Regions from separate parts of the Homo sapiens genome. Here all the other regions are linked to region 1. The links come from fine-mapping of genetic effects on gene expression. A gene starts in region 1. Each other region holds a variant in brackets. All regions are shown on one strand. Distances are from middle to middle.

Evidence for each region. PIP is the estimated chance that this variant, and not a neighbour inherited with it, causes the effect. A credible set is the group of variants that fine-mapping cannot tell apart.
Region 2: its variant is the best candidate, but not a certain one, in a credible set for the expression of STK32B in skeletal muscle (GTEx, PIP 0.54).
Region 3: its variant is the best candidate, but not a certain one, in a credible set for the expression of STK32B in blood mononuclear cells (TOPMed, PIP 0.80).

Annotation. Positions count from the first base shown.
Region 1 is chr4:5,049,151-5,054,376 of GRCh38, forward strand. STK32B (serine/threonine kinase 32B) reads left to right here and starts at 2,330. Exons shown (of 12, transcript NM_018401.3): 1 at 2,330-2,765. The coding sequence starts at 2,714. RefSeq lists an enhancer at 3,032-3,570.
Region 2 is chr4:5,207,917-5,213,142 of GRCh38, forward strand. All of the region lies in intron 3 of STK32B (serine/threonine kinase 32B), which reads left to right. Among named protein-coding and RNA genes, the nearest start is that of STK32B, 160 kb to the left of the region's middle. The variant G/T (reference allele first, on the strand shown) is at 3,094.
Region 3 is chr4:5,028,569-5,033,794 of GRCh38, forward strand. It overlaps a transcript of STK32B not described here. Among named protein-coding and RNA genes, the nearest start is that of CYTL1, 12 kb to the left of the region's middle. RefSeq lists an enhancer at 5,047-5,096. The variant G/C (reference allele first, on the strand shown) is at 2,890.

The sequences.
Region 1 (5,226 bases):
TTCCAGTCTCAGCGCCAGCACCCTCTCTGGCCAATGCCTTCTTTTCTTTTGTTTTTTTTTTTTTGAGACGGAGTCTCACTCTGTCACCCAGGTTGGAGTGCAGTGGCACAATCTCAGCTCACTGCAACCTCCGCCTCCCAGGTTCAAGGGATTCTCCCACCTCAGCCTCCCGAGTAGCCGGGATTACAGGTGGGTGACATTTCTGTCATGCGTGTCCGTGTGAAGAGACCACCAAACAGGCTTTGTGTGAGCAATAAAGCTTTTTAATCACCTCAGTGCAGGCGGGCTGAGTCCGAAAAGAGAGTCAGCGAAGAGAGATATGGGTGGGGCAGTTTTATAGGATTTGGGTAGGTTATGGAAAATTAAAGTCAAAGGGGTTCTCTGGGAGGCAGGGGCGAGGGTCACAAGGTGCTCAGTCGGGAGCTTCTGAGCCAGGAGAAGGAATTTCACAAGGTAATGTCATCAGTTAAGGCAGGAACAGGCCATTTTCACTTCTTTTGTGATTCTTCAGTTGCTTCAGGCCATCTGGATGTATATGTGCAGGTCACAGGGGTTATGATGGCTTAGCTTGGGCTCAGAGGCCTGGCAATCACACCCAGCTAAGTTTTGTTTTTTTAGTACAGATGGGGTTTCTCCATATTGGCCAGGCTAGTCTCAAACTCTTGACTTCAGGTGATCCACCCGCCTCAGCCTCCCAAAGTGCTGGGATTACAGGTGTGAGCCCCCACGCCCGGCCTAGCACAATATCAATATATTCCTCATAACAATGTTAGAAAGGGAAAGTTCTCTTATTAGCACCTTCTGGACTCAGATGAAGAAACTGAGTCCAGAACAGGTTAAGTAATTTATCCAAGTTAACTGGCTAATGAGGGGCAAAGCAGAATGAAACCTGGGTAGAATGAGCCCAGAGCCCATGCCTGTCCACATTCCGCCCTATGCTTCTTGAGCTAGGGGCCAGCTCTGTGTTCAGGGCATTGCCTGCTGCACACTGGCTACTCAGTGTATGCTTGTTGGTGGAATGAAAGGCAAGAAATATTTATTCATCATTTATTATATGCCGGGCACTGTTGCCTGCTTTTATAAATATTACCTGATATAATTCTCACAGACAACCCAAGGAGTTAATATCAATCAGCCCACTTTGCAGATAAGAACTCCAAAGTGGGACACATTGCCAGTAAATGGTAGAGCCAGCTCTGGGTCATGGTGGGTGGGCCTGCCTCAGACCTTCTCAGTTCTTTCCCACTGCCTTTAAGAGATTTTTTGTTTTGTTTTGTTTTGTTTTGTTTCTGTATGAGTCTCCCCGGCTTCCCTCACCCTTCTCCCAAGAAAAAGAAAGAAGGGGAGAGAACTGGAGAGAGAGACCAGGTAGGGGACGGGGACTGGGGGACGAGATAGGATGGAGAGAGTCACAAAGAACCCCTGCTTTCTATCAAAGCACGGACAGTGGTTCCAGGCGCCCAGCAGATGGCAGGATGTAGCCAAAGATTCCCTGCAGTCCCGGAGAGCTGGGCCCGCAGGACTGCAAGGCAGGGGGACCTGCCTGTCCCTCAGGGAGCGTCCTGGGAACCCGCGCTCGCCCCACACGTCTTGGGGCGCATCTGCCGCACCCCTTACTTAGGCACCCGCAACTGTGGCGCGTATCTCCCGATCCAGGCTCCCGCCGCAGGAGCCCAGGGACCCTCATGCTAGCCTCGCCCCTAAATCGGACGCCGATGCCGCCCAATTTTGGGGGAATCCCGAGACTCATGCCCAGCCATTCCCAGGGAGAATGGTTTGGGGCAAACTATGGCTGTCTGGGGCCTCAGTTTCCCCATGTACAATGAAGGGGTCAGATTAGTATCTAATCTTAAGGGGTCAGAAAGTAAACAGATACTTTCATTCATTAAACACTGAGAAAAACCTTAAGAGGAACAGCGTCGGTTGGAGAGCCAGCAGACACTCCACTGCCCATCCCAATATGAATGGGCAAATACAGGCTAGCGGGGAGTCCTGGGACTCCCTTCGCAGCCGGGGCCGACTAACCACAGACCTAAGAGCCCCTCTACCTCTAGACCTCCGTCTACTGCGCTCTAAAATATGAACGATGCTTTCTTACTGCTGGGTTGTCGGAGGCGGATGTGGGATGGTGCTAACAAAGCGCGTAGCCGAGGCCTGGCCATAGTGGGTGCTGACAAACCGCTTACTGCCTGCAGGGACCGAGCTCCCGGCCGAGGGAGGAGGGCCGAGCAGGGATTCAGATTCTTCCGGGCCGATCCCTTTCTCAGCTCCTTCCGCCCTGCCGCCGCCCACTGCGTGCTGCCTTCGTCCGTCCCCTCCTCCCCCGCTCCTTCCCCTCCTTCCCCTGCTCCCGCGCCGCCTCGCGTCTCCCGCCCGCTGTAGCCGGCGAGGAGCGCCGCACGTTGGCCCCGGCGCGAGGAGCTCCCGGGTTCCCGGGCGGGCACTGGAGTAAGGAGCTGCGAGCGCAGCCCGAGGCGGGGCACGGCGGAAGGCGCGGCGAGAGCGGGGTCCCTGCGAGCGCAGTCGGAAGGGCGTCCAGGAGAAGGGGGACGCCGTCCCCGCCCCTGCACGGTGCTCGGCCCCCTCGGGCTCCGCGCGCGGCTACAACCCGGACTGGGCGCGCCCCCGGCATCCCGCATCTCTGCGCGCGTCCCACATCCCGCATCCGGCATCCCAGCGGCCGGGCATGTAGCAGCGGCAGCAACGGCGGAATATGGGCGGGAACCACTCCCACAAGCCCCCCGTGTTTGACGAGAATGAGGAAGGTAAGAGAGCGAGAGGTGCGAATTCCCGCTTCGCGGGGCATCCCCTTCCTCCACCACCCTCGGCCGAGCCCTGCGGGGCACCGCATGCTGCCCGGCGCGGGGACCCAGGCATGGCCACTTCGCCCAGCGAATGCAGTGTGTGCCCGACCCGTGCCAGGCGCGGCGCTTCTGCTGAGGCAACTCCTAGGTACCCAGTGCCGTTTAGTAGTCGGGACGGTGCCTAGCGCGGGACTGGGGAGGCGGCTTCAGAGAGTTGAACCCGAAACCTGCACTTGGGGGTGTGGAAGGGAGGAGTTGACTTCGGAGGCCAGTCGGGATGGTTCTAGGCTCGGGCTCCCCAGGAAACCGAGGTTTCCTTGAGAGCCTGAGGCTGACGGAGGTGGCCTGGAAGGGCGGGTTGCACCGTGTGTCTGTGTGTGTGTGCGCGTGCCCACGACGCATTTGGTCTCGTGCAAGGGCCTGTTGGATGCAGCTCTCCTCAATCACCCAGGACAGAGGGAAACTTTTCTTTGCTAAACTCTGTGGTTCCTAGGAGGGCGTCCTGTTCTGGGCAGCCTCCCCCTGGCGCAGAAGTGGTGTAGGCTGTCCAACCGCATCTCAACTTCCTGGCTGGATCCTTGCGGTTCAGGTCGATAGAGCTCCCTATTTGGACTAGCAGAACCCTCTTTCCAGTGCAGCGTGTCCCTGGAAAACTTACTTCACCTCTCTGAAACATTAGTCCCTTCATCAATGAAATGTGAGTTATGATACCACTAGCTACTTTATAGGGTTGTTTGAAGCTTAACCACTAGTAATCCACGTGAAAAGTGCCTTATAAATGCAAGCAGTACCGAGCTGTGCCGTTTTTTATGTTAAGAGCCCTCTGCCTCTCAAAGCTGGTTTCCTACTGTGCTGACTCGCCAGTCTCCACTGTGCCCCAGGTAAGAGCTGAGACATACTGAGCACTTACTATGTTCCAGCCATGCTAGCACATAGTGTTCACTCCATCCTTTTCATGCCCCTTGAGGTGGCTACCTTAGAAAGGGGTCTGTCCTGGTTACTGCTGGTAAGAAGTAGAGCTGGGCTTGAGGCAGGACAGTCTGCTTTGAAAGCTGTGCCTGTCATCATTACCCAGGGCACTGGCTGTGTGCGTACATCATGGATGGCTTCTAGAACTCCCAAGGCTGTGAGTGCTACTCAGATGCCTGCCTGGACAGCCCTTCTCAAAAAGATAGATGAACACAGTCAAGGTTAAGTGAGCACCTGCTGTGTCAGGCCCACGAGAGCCTTCCTTAAAGGAGTTCCTAGTCTAATGGCCCTGAATGACCGTCCATGGTGATAAGGGCATTGAGAAACCAGTGCAGGGTCTTGGGGGCACAGAGAGGCCCCAGCTTTTCCTGATCTTTAGTCTGGAGCATGTGCAGGTGAGCAGGTAAGGAGCCAGTTGTGGACAGAGGAGAGGTGGGCACAGAGGTAATGGAGGCTCTTGCATGTCCCAGTAAGAGTTTGAACACTATGCAGCATCACCCTCAATTGCACGGGCTTGTGGTTCTAGCCTGGGTCAAAGGTCATGCTTTTGCTAATTTTCCTAGCATCTTTCTCTTTTATTTACAGAGGAAATTTGCCACCCTTATATTGAAAACCGTCTCTGTCATTTATCCCCAGCTTGAAAATATTCATTGGCAAAATAGTTATCTCTGGTGTAGCCAACCTTTTGATTTTCCTGTTCCTGTTCCTTATTCTATAAGCAGATTGGGCCTAAGGTTAACTGCCTGTTTCGGTGCTTGTTAAAATACAAGGTTATGAGGCCGGGCGCGGTGGCTCATGCCTGTAATCCCAGTACTTTGGGAGGCCGAGGTGGACGGATCACCTGAGGTCAGGAGAGGCCTGCCTGGCCAACATGATGAAACCCCGACTCTACTAAAAATACAAAAATTAGCCGGGCATGTTGGCGGGAACCTGTAATCCCAGCTACTCAGGAGGCTGAGGCAGGAGAATCGCTTGAACCCGGGAGGCGGAGGTTGCAGTGAGCTGAGATCGCACCATTGCATTCGAGCCTGGGCACCAAGAGTGAAGCTCCATCTCAAAATAAATAAATAAATAAATAAATATAAATAAATATAAGGTTAGGGCTCTCCTCATTTTGCCATTGCCCAGCCCAGTGAAACATTAACTTGTTTGATTTTGCCAGTATGTCTCTCACACGTTTCCTAGTACAGGTAAAACAGTGTTACTTGCCACCAACCGACTCATTTATTTCGTAGGCATTTACTATTTGTATTTTCTGTACCCACCCCTGTGCTGGGGACCGGGAATATGAGGAGGATGAAGGCAAAGTGTTAACAATTTGCTCCCAGAGCAAGTAAACCACCTGGAAAACACAGGGTGTGTAAGTGCCCTGACGTGGGTGAGCTCAGGCGACTGATATCCTGGAGGAGGGTCCCTAACTCAGAGTGGGGGGAGGGATCTGAAAAGGCCTCCT
Region 2 (5,226 bases), 160 kb after region 1:
CATTTCCTTCTCTGTACATTTATTCACAAAGGAAACATTTTCTGGTTTGATGTTGTGTTACAGGCATGGCTGTATCTATCAGTCAGGATGGGCTAAGCTATGCTGCAGTAAAAAACAACCCCCAGTTTTCAATGGCTTAAAAGAACAGAGGTCTCTTTCTTGTTGGATATACTACAGTGTGTCCAGCCTGGACTGGGAGAAGGCTCTGCTCACCAGGTGATTCAGGATTGTAGGTTGATGGTACCTCTTGAGCCCTGACCATGTGAGGGCCTGAGGGAAAGGGAACTCAGCCCAGAAGTGGCTCACACCCATTTATTTTCCCCATCAGTTAGTTACATGGCTTCCTCCAGCCACAGGGAGTCAGAAAATAAATTTCTACCCCTTGCCTAGAAAGGAAGGAGCGCCGGATATTGCTGAGTAGAATGATTGATCATCAAACACTGGTGCTATGGAAGTAAATAAGAACAAACCATGGTCTGGGCTCTGGAGGAGAACCAAGTCTCATATATGATTTATTGAGTTCTTACTGCATATACAACACTTTGTAGTTGTTATGGCATTTGATCTTCACATTAGTCATGAGAAGTTTTCTAACTTCAATTTCAGGGCAGAAAACTTAGTCCTGGCAAAACTAAATGACTTTATTAACATCACTCAGCTGGTAGGACTTGAAGGCAAAATTCTGGCTTCAAAGTATGAGCTCTGTATGGTACCCCAAGGACTCATATCTCCCTGCTTGAACCTTGGATTTCCACCCATGTCATCCTCAATGCCACTGATAAACACGGTAGTCTCGGGGTCTCTTAGATATTCTGGGTAGGGAAGAATTCAATGATCGCCCCATGGTGGGAAGGGAAAAGATGAGAGATTAATTTGGGTAAATCCATTCTGGCTTGATTCACCCAAATCAAGCCCATCTGGTAGATATGATTATTTTGTCTTGTGTCAGATAAATGATCACGATGCCTGACAAGCAATCTTCATAAAACTTCATTCTTTATAAACCTTTTCCCTGCTCAGTGGGCTTCATCAGTGATTCCTTATTGCCTTCAGGAAGAAGTCTAGTTTTCTTTGATTTTCAAAGTCCTGCCCAGTTGGGCACATGCCCCTCTCATGGCCCCTTTTCCTTGTCCAGTGTGCTCTGTCTGGAGCTTCCATCCCAGCTGCCTCCCCCTCAGCACTTCTGCACATGGAGAGATTCAGGTAACAGAAAATTGTGAGTATGGACTAACATATTAACAGTAGGGTGGGTGAAGAGGGAGAGATATCGGAAGACTTATGTGTCAGGAAATAGAGTTTACATTTCTTTTTTTTCTTTCTTTTGAGACAGGGTCCTGCTCTGTCACCTGTGCTGGAGTGCAGTGTCACAATCACAGCTCACTGCAGCCTCAAAATCACAGGTTCAAGTAATCCTCCCACCTCAGTCTTTCAGGTAGCTGGGACCACAGGCATGTGCCACCATGCCTGGCTAATTTTTTTGTATTTTTTGTAGAGATGGGGTGTTGCTATGTTGCCCAAGCTGTTCTCAAATACTTAGGCTAAAGTGATCTTCCTACCCTGGTCTCCCAGAGTGCTGGGATTATAGGTGAGAGCCACTGTGCCCAGCCTAGAGCTTACGATTTCTTGAATGGGGCAACCAGTGGTCAAAATTCTGAAGACAGTGAAAGGAAGAATAGTGTGCAAGAGAGTAACTCCATGAAATTGCTTTATCCCCTCAACTGAACTGAATTGATAATGATGATGTTAGAATCCCAGCAGCTGCCATCTACACCAAGCACCTCTGTGCTGGTCTCTGTGTTAGATCCCTCATGAACATTATCTCACCTAATTATCATAAAGTGCCTGGGCCTAGGAAGCGTTTATAATACCACCATTGACATTTGAGAAAGTAGGTTGGATACTTTAACAACCTTGTCCAAAACTGCAACATCGAAAAAAAACAGAATCAGGATATGGCCCCCCAACTGTCTACTTCCAAAGCCTAGATTGTTTCCTCTATACCACTGCATCTTCAAGGGCAATAGATTTCCTGTTGCTGACACAGGGATTTAGGTCAAATATGTGAATTTCTAGAGGCCAACTGCCTGATTTGGATGTAACAGCACAATTCCTGGAAGGCTTAAATTGTGCGTCATTGAAGCTCTTCCATTGGAAAGTTGAAATGTCAAACACACACCCACAGCTCAGCACATATGCAATTCAGGAGCCATTTCCTTGAAACTAGCATCTTGTTACAAAGGCATAATGTTGAAGACTGAATCTCCAGCCTGTGTGTGCTACATGTCCTCTTCCCCTTGTCTTTCTCCTCCTCCTCCTCTTTCTTCTTCTTCTTCTCCTCCTCCTCCTCCTCAAGGCTTTCCATATGAGGTCTCTCACCCACTGTTCACACCTTACCCACCTGACCTTCTGCCCTTCCCCATCTCCTCGGGCCATGCACAACAGCCTGGGCCTGGTGTTCCCAGTCTTCTTGCCCTTCTTTGTCCCTTTTCGTCCATCCATCTCTGCACATTCACAGCATAGCTAGTCTTTCATCAGTATCACAGATAATTCATTTTCCTTGAAGACTTTTCTTGTCCTGCCCTCACCGAAGACAAACCTGCACTGTTGTACTTTGTGTCCTCTTATGGTGTGCATTATGAACTCTACTTGTGGGCTTATGTCTGTGATTCCCTTACTAGACTTCAAATTCCATGAAGGCAGGGACCAGGTGTGAAGTCCACTGTTATGAGCCCTGCCCTAGAGAAGGCATTGGCAGGCATTCAAAAACAGATAAATGGGCATTTAATCTATTTTAAAATCTATTCCTTGGAACACTTACAGTATAGTTGCAAAAGTGTTTTCTATCCAAATATTGGTGAAGTAAATTAAGTTTTAGAAATACTTTTTTTTTTTTTTTTGAGACAAAGTCTCCCTCTATGCCCCAGGCTGGAATGCAGTGGTGTGATCACAACTCACTGCAGCCTTGACCTCCTGGGCTCAGGTGATCCTCCCACCTCAGCCCCATGAGTAGCTGGGACTACAGGTATGCACCATCATGCCTAGCTAATTTTTAAATTTGTGTAGAGATGGGGTCTAACTAGGTTGCCTAGGCTG[G/T]TCTCAAACTCCTGAGCTCAAATGATCCTCCCACTTTAGCCTCCTAAAGTGCTGGGATTACAGGTGTGAGCTACCATGCCCTACCAGAAATACTTCTTATATCCCCTGTCTTGAAGAGTCCCGTGAATAGTGGCATACCAAAAGCTCTGAGAATTCCTTCAGTAAAGAACTTCATTTTCACTTTTTAAACTAGTAAAAACCAAACTTATTTGTCTATTAGCATGCTTTTCCACAAATACACATTACTCCTCAGAACTCTTCCCTAGGTGTGCTGTAAGAAATTAAGAAGACAAGGCCTTCCTGGTCCAAGGCTAATGGAAAAGATTTGTAATTCTGGGAGAGAGAAATAGGGAAAGAGTGGGATCTTGAGCTTCCTGGCAGTACAGCTACCACTTGGGGAGAAATAGCAGTATCAGGAGCCCCCAGAGGTAGTCTTGTCAACAATGGGATGACCAGAAGAGTTACTTCTACAAGGAAAGAGCCAAACCACTGGAGGTCCCCAGGAGGACCAGGGGGAAAGCACTTGTGTGTGAGTCTGGGACTCTGTCCAGGGAGGTAGGACTAGGGGAGGAGGGGGGATGGAAGCTTATTTGCTTGCGGAATAAGAGGCTGTGAAATGTGGCCCATCTCCTCCCTGCCAGCCTTCTCTCTTCTGTTAACTCACCATGTGCAATGACCCCATGAGGTCAGCATCATCCTCTCTGGGGAAGAAAGAACAAACACAAACAAGCAAACAAACAATCTTGCTTCACAGAGTAAAATGCACATTTGTTCATTTGAAAAGTAAACAAACTCGCATTTTACACTGTGAATCACGCAAGCTCTAAAATGATCAAGCGACAAGTCTCTCTGATTTTGTTTTTACTTCAGTAAATGGGGCTTTTATAGTTCATTTTATAAACTGCTATTTATTGGGTATTTGCCATAGTATTTTATCTTCATGACAACGTTGAGAGTTAAGACTCACCAATGAAAACTGAAGCCGAGGGACTAACGGTAATTCATTCAACACTCGTGCAGCAAATAATTGTTTAGCTCCTACTGTGTGCCAGGTGCTATTACAGAGCAGGACACAGGCGATTTTATTTAATGGTCTTTTTACTTACTAATCTTTATTAAGCATTTACTGTGTGTCAGGGACCGCTCTGATGTTTTATACAGGCCATCATTTTTAATTTTCACAATTAGTAAGCAAGTAGATGTGATTATTATAGACATTTAGAAGGTGGGGAAACAGAGGCATAGCATGCAGAAAAACATGTCTAACATGACACAGCTACCAAAAGTCAGAACCAGGATTCAGACCCGAGCAGTCAAGGTTATTTGTGCAAGTAATATTCAGATGTGACACCTCTCAAAACAAGCAATTTTTCCCTACTGTCTGTGGGCTTACTGTCAGCCTTTTAAAGAGCTCTCAAAATGTAAGTCATGACTTTCTGCACTGAGGTGACTATGTGGATCATGTGAAGGGTACGAAAACCGGAGATAAACCGCAGTCCCCACAAAGGTTTTCCTGCAGAAGCACCCCATGGCTGCTTAATCAAAGCAAACTGGCACCTCGTGAAGTCAGAATGCCCTCCACATCCTGTGATTTCATCCAAACTTTCCAATTTTGTTATGTTAGCAAAGGCCACCAGGCAATTTCTCCCACATTTGTCATCGTCCCTTAAAACATTATATAATTGGAAGTTGCTGTGTTGGTGAGGGTAGGATGACATTTTATGTGCATTCAATTTGGACATAAGTGTCATATTTGCACGAGGTTGGGGCTGCTGGCTGTAAGTATAAAATTTCATGAGTGATGAGTTGGCCTGCAAGAGATCTCGATGAGTGAGAGGAAACACGCTTTTTATGACCCTGGCGGAGATAAATCAATGATCGCAGGCAGAAGGTCGACATCGTTTTTTTAAAATCAAGTGTCTGCTCTCTGCGCTTTCTGGTTCTGTCTCTACAGAATATATTCTCTGCATCCTATGTTCTAAAACTCAGATAAAACCTGATCAGCATGAATTCACTTAGTTGTATTTAAATAATATATACGTACATATAGATAATCTCGAGGAGCTGTTGTGCATTAGCACTGCTGTTTTCAGGACACTTTTAACCCATTATTGCTTTTCACTGTGATTTAAT
Region 3 (5,226 bases), 21 kb before region 1:
TGGGACCACCCAAGTTTTGCTTGGGCTTTGCTTTTGGGCAGAGATTATGAAAAGCAATTCATGTGGTTGATGCTCTATCAGCCTCAAACTGCGGTGGAGAAGACCCAGAGTGATGTCCCAGACAATCTGTGGTAAGGACTAGGAGTTGTTTGTTACAGCAGTGTAATCTAGCCCATCCTGACTGTGGCAGGCAGAATTCTACAATGACCCCTGTATTAGTTCACTCTCACACTACCATAAAGAAATACCTGAGACTAGGTAATTTATAAAGAAAAGAGGTTTAATTGGCTTATGGTTCGGTAAGCTATACAGGAAGCATGATGCTGCCATCTGCTCAGCCTCAGGAAACTTACAACCTGGTGGAAGGCAAAGGGGAGCACATCGCATGGCCGGAACAAGAGGCAGGAGGTGCCACACATTTTTAAACAACCGGGTCTCAGGAGAACTCACTATCATGATGACAACATCAAGGGAGATGGTGCTAAACCATTCAGGAGAAACCATCCCCATGATCCAATCACCTTCCACCAGTCCCCACCTCCAACACTAGGGATTACAATTGAACATGAGATTTGGGTGGAGACACAGATCCTAACCATATCATCCCCAATGACCCTTGCAGAACCCCCTCCACTGAGTTGGGGGTAGGCCTATGAATAGGATGAGATCTCTCCTGTGGTTAGGTTAGTTACATGGCAAAGGGATCTTGCAGTTGTAATAAAAGTCACTTGATCAAAAGAGAGATAAGCCAGGTGATCCTAATGCAATCACACAAACACTTTTAAAACAGTAAGTGTTGCAGGCTGGGAGCAGACGAGGGAGTCAGAGAAATTTCAGGTGTGGAAAACATTCAACCCAGTGTTGCTGGCTTGACAGTGGAGGGAGACACAAGAGAACGGATGCTGGTGGCCCTCAGAAGTAGACAGTGGCCCCTGATTGACACCAGCAAGGAAATGGGAACCTGAGACCTAGGGCTGTAAGCAATGGGGCTCTGTTAACAATCTGACACAACCAGGAAAGGTCTGTTAACAACCCATACAGCCTGGAAGCCGGTCCTCCCCGACGGCTCCTGCAGACGAACCCAGGCTGTCCGACACCTTGATTTTGGCCTTGTGAGAGCCAGAGCAGGGAACTCAGCAGACTCCCACCCAGGCGCCCATCTCCAGAGCTGCAAGCTGATAAATGGTATTGTTTAAGCCTTCAAGTTGGTGGTCATTTGTTACACAGTAATATGGTTAAATTTTGTGTTCCCGCCCAAATCTCATCTTGAATTGTAATCCCCATAATCTCCACGTGTCAAGGAAGAGACCAGGTGGAGGTAATTGAATTATGGGAGTGGTTTCCCCATGCTATTCTCATGATAGTGAATGAGTTTTCATGAGATCTGATGGTTTTATAAGGGGCTCTTCCCGCTTTGCTCAGCACTCTCTTTTCTGTGTCCTTGTGAAGAAAGTGCCTTGCTTCCTCTTCACCTTCCACCATGATGGTTAAGTTTCCTGAGGTCTTCCCAGCCATGCTGAACTGTGAGTCAGTGAAACCTCTTTCCTTTATAAATTACCCAGTCTTGAGCAGTTCTTTATAGCAGTGTGAAAATGGACTAATACACACAGCAACTCATTAGAAAACCAATACATGGACTAATGCACTATTATTCGAGGTTATTCACTGAGGTTGATGATTTTTCAAGCTAGTAACACATGTGCCATATTACCCATGCTGCCTTCTAAGGATGTGTCAATTTCTTTATCAGATTTGGGATTTCCTGATAGCAGGAGCTGAGCTGGTCATCTCCGGATCCCCCAGACCTAGCATGGATACTGAATGGAATACTTTTAGAAGATGTGAGTAGCACCTGGTAACATTGTGAAGTTGATGAAACTTTTCTGCCATGCTGTCATATCCTGGCATGATAGTCTGGGTGCCTGGAAACGAACAATAGCTAATGTGGATACAGTGTGAGCCGGGTGTCTGGTGCTTGGGGCACTAGGCACTTTAACCAAAGCAATCCTCATAAAAACCTTACAAGGTAGGAGTTGGTATTATCACAGCCTCAATTCACAGAAGAGGAACCAGAGGGTGGGAAGTTAAGTAACTTGCTCAAGGTCATACCATTAATTAATAGTGGAGCCCAGGTTCAAACCTAGACAGCTAGGTTCAATCTGTGTTCCCAGCCACCACATCTTCCTGCCACTTAAGACGAGGGACTCAATACATATTCACTGAAGGCAAGAAGGAAAAAAAGTAATTTACATGAATGCTAACAAGCTGTGTGTATTAGGTTCTCCTAAGAAAAAGAATGTGTGTATGTATAGACACATGCACACACACACACATCTATACATATACATGGAGAGAGAGAGAGAAGGCTGATTTTAAGTAATTGAGTCAATTAAATAATTGATTTTAAATAATTGTGGAAGCTCAGCAAATCCAAATTTTGCAAGGCAGACTGACAGGCTGGAGACCCAGGGGAGAGGTGATGTTGAAGCTCTAGTCCAAAGGTTATCCAGAGGCTGAATTTTCTTGCTCTTGGTGGGTCTCAGACTTTTTCTGAGCCTTCAACTGATTGGACGAGGCCCACCCACATTATGGAGTGTCATCTGCTTTATTTAAAATGTACTGATTTAAATGTTCATCTCATGTTAAAAACCCCTTCACAGAAACATCTGGAATAATGCTTGACGAAATACCTGAGTACAGACTGTGACCCAGTCAAGCTGACACATGAAATTAACCATCACACTGTCGGACTCTGGGCAAGTGCCTCACTTATCTTTGAACTTTACTTTCCTTGGAAAATGAGGGATGACTTTATTTAGAGGGTTTGAGGCCAGTCTGGGCAACATAGTAAGACATCATCTCTGGTATAAAAAAACAAAACTTAGCTGG[G/C]TATGGTGGCATGTGCCTGTGGTCCTAGCTACTGGGGAGGCTGAGGCGGGAGGATCACCTGACTCCAAGAGGTCGAGGCTGGAGTGAGCAGTGATCACATCACTGCACTCCAGTCTAGGAGACTCTGTCTCCAAAAAAAAAAAGATAAATATGTTTGGAGTCTGTTCTCCATTATAAATTTGGTGATTCATTGCTTTTAAGGGGCCAATCATGAGAATGCCAAGTCCTCTTTGCACAGGGATGTAAGAAGCTGCACGTTACAGAGGCCCAAATGTGGGTTCATGGGCAGGTCGGGGTCCCACTTAGCAGGCCTGTGATATCAAGAAGGTGCTTGACACCACGGCCTCAGTCCCCTCCTCAGATCCCTCACCCAGTTGTGGGTGTGAGGATTTAAGTGGAGGCCCAGTTTCAGACAGAGTGGCTGCTCACTCAAGGCTGGTCGCTCTCACCAGATCTGTGTCTATAGAGCACTTAGAAAATTCCCCAACTGGGAAACAGATACCACCTTGCATTACAGACTGTATGTTTTTTACCCTTTGTTTTGCTAATAGAATGCTGAATGATTCACCAAGCAGACTTTTTAAAACAAATTAACAGAATTGACTTAGCTAAACAAATACGTTTTTTGTATCAGTTGCATATACAACGATATATAGGTCCTTTGAAATTAGAACTTGAGACTAGTAGCCAGTTATGACTCCTGAGCTCCTAGAAAGAAAAAAAAAAAAAAACCTGGCCGGGCACAGTGGCTCACACCTGTAATCCCAGCACTTTGGAAGGCCAAGACGGGCGGATCACTTGAGGTCAGGAGTTCGAGAGCAGTCTGGACAACGTGGTGAAACCCCGTCTCTACTAAAATACAAAAATTAGCCGGGCGTGGTGGTGCACAACTGTAGTCCCAGCTACTCAGGAGGCTGAGGTGGGAGAATTGCTTCAACCCGGGAGGCGGAGGTTGCAGGCAGTTAGCCGAGATTGTGCCATTGCACTCCAGCCTGGACGGCAAAGCAAGACTCCATCTCAAAAAAAAAAAAAAAAAAAAAAAAAGAAGAAAGAGAAAGAAAAGAAAAAAACCCCTAAACTGCATTTTCCATCTTTCATGATTTCTGTTATAATGAAAGATGACCAGTTTCTAGAGCTATATTATTTTCCCCCATACCTATGAAAAAAAATTTTATTGTAGTAAAATATGCATAATATAAAATTTATCATTTTGACAATTTTTACAATTTGGTGTTAAATACATTCACATTGTTGTACAACCATCACCACCATCTACCTCTAGAACTTTCTCATCTTCCCAAGCTGAAACTCTGTCCCCATTAACCACTAACTCCCCACTCCTCGCTCCCTCCAGACCCTGGCAAGCACCCTTCTATTTTCTGTCCTTTAGAGGCCCAGTTTGATTTAAAGGTTTAAACTCAAACCAGACAGTTGAACTCTCTGAGCTCACAGACCGGCTCTTTCCCTTCCCAGCTGTGTGACTTTATCTCATTTCTTCATCTATAAAATGGAGGCCACACTTTTACCTCTCACATGGGGCTGAGAGAGGATTAAATGGTCAATATTTCCAAAGGCCCGAGGCTACTGCTGGTGTAAGGTAAGTACTGGAGATTTGCTATTATTATTTATGTAACTTCCAGCCCCACAAACACAGTCCCCAACCACCAAACACCCCACACACTAGCCTATAAGGGCCCCAGGGTCAGCGGCCTCATGGAAGGAAGAGAACGCTGGCGGAATGAGGGAATGAATGATGCCCTTGATTGCCTTTCCACTTACAACACGGTAGGTGATACGGCGTCCACAGCTGCAGCACGGTCACCATAAACAAGCATTTCCCCAGCTGGGCCATGGCCCGTGGAAACCCTGCTTCTCCCTCCAGGTTCCTGTGGACTCCAGCTTCTGGGAAGGTAAGGCTTCCTCCCTTGGGAAGCATTTTGAGTGTTTTGGCCTGTGTCCTTTCAGGAAGCCCCGTAGCCAACACACACCCCAGGGCAGGAAGTGGGTGAGAACAACTTAGACCTTGGACAGAAAGCAATTCGGAAACTGGCTCAGCCTCTTCTCGTTGCTGGCACGGCAAGCAGTGTTAAGTGTGAGCAATTTTTTGTTTTGTTTTGAATTTGAATGGTTCCTTTTTCTCCTTCACGAGGAGGCCATGGTTTCTGAGAGTGGGGCTTGCATGTGGCAAAGAATAAGGATGGCAAGAAGGGCGGAAGCACCCCTGAGCACTGCAGCTGCTACTTCCAGTGCACTCTCTGTTTACAACCGCCCTGGGAGATGAGAAGAAAACCTCCAGATTATACTTGAAACGCTGAGGCTGGAAGAGGTAGACAAGAT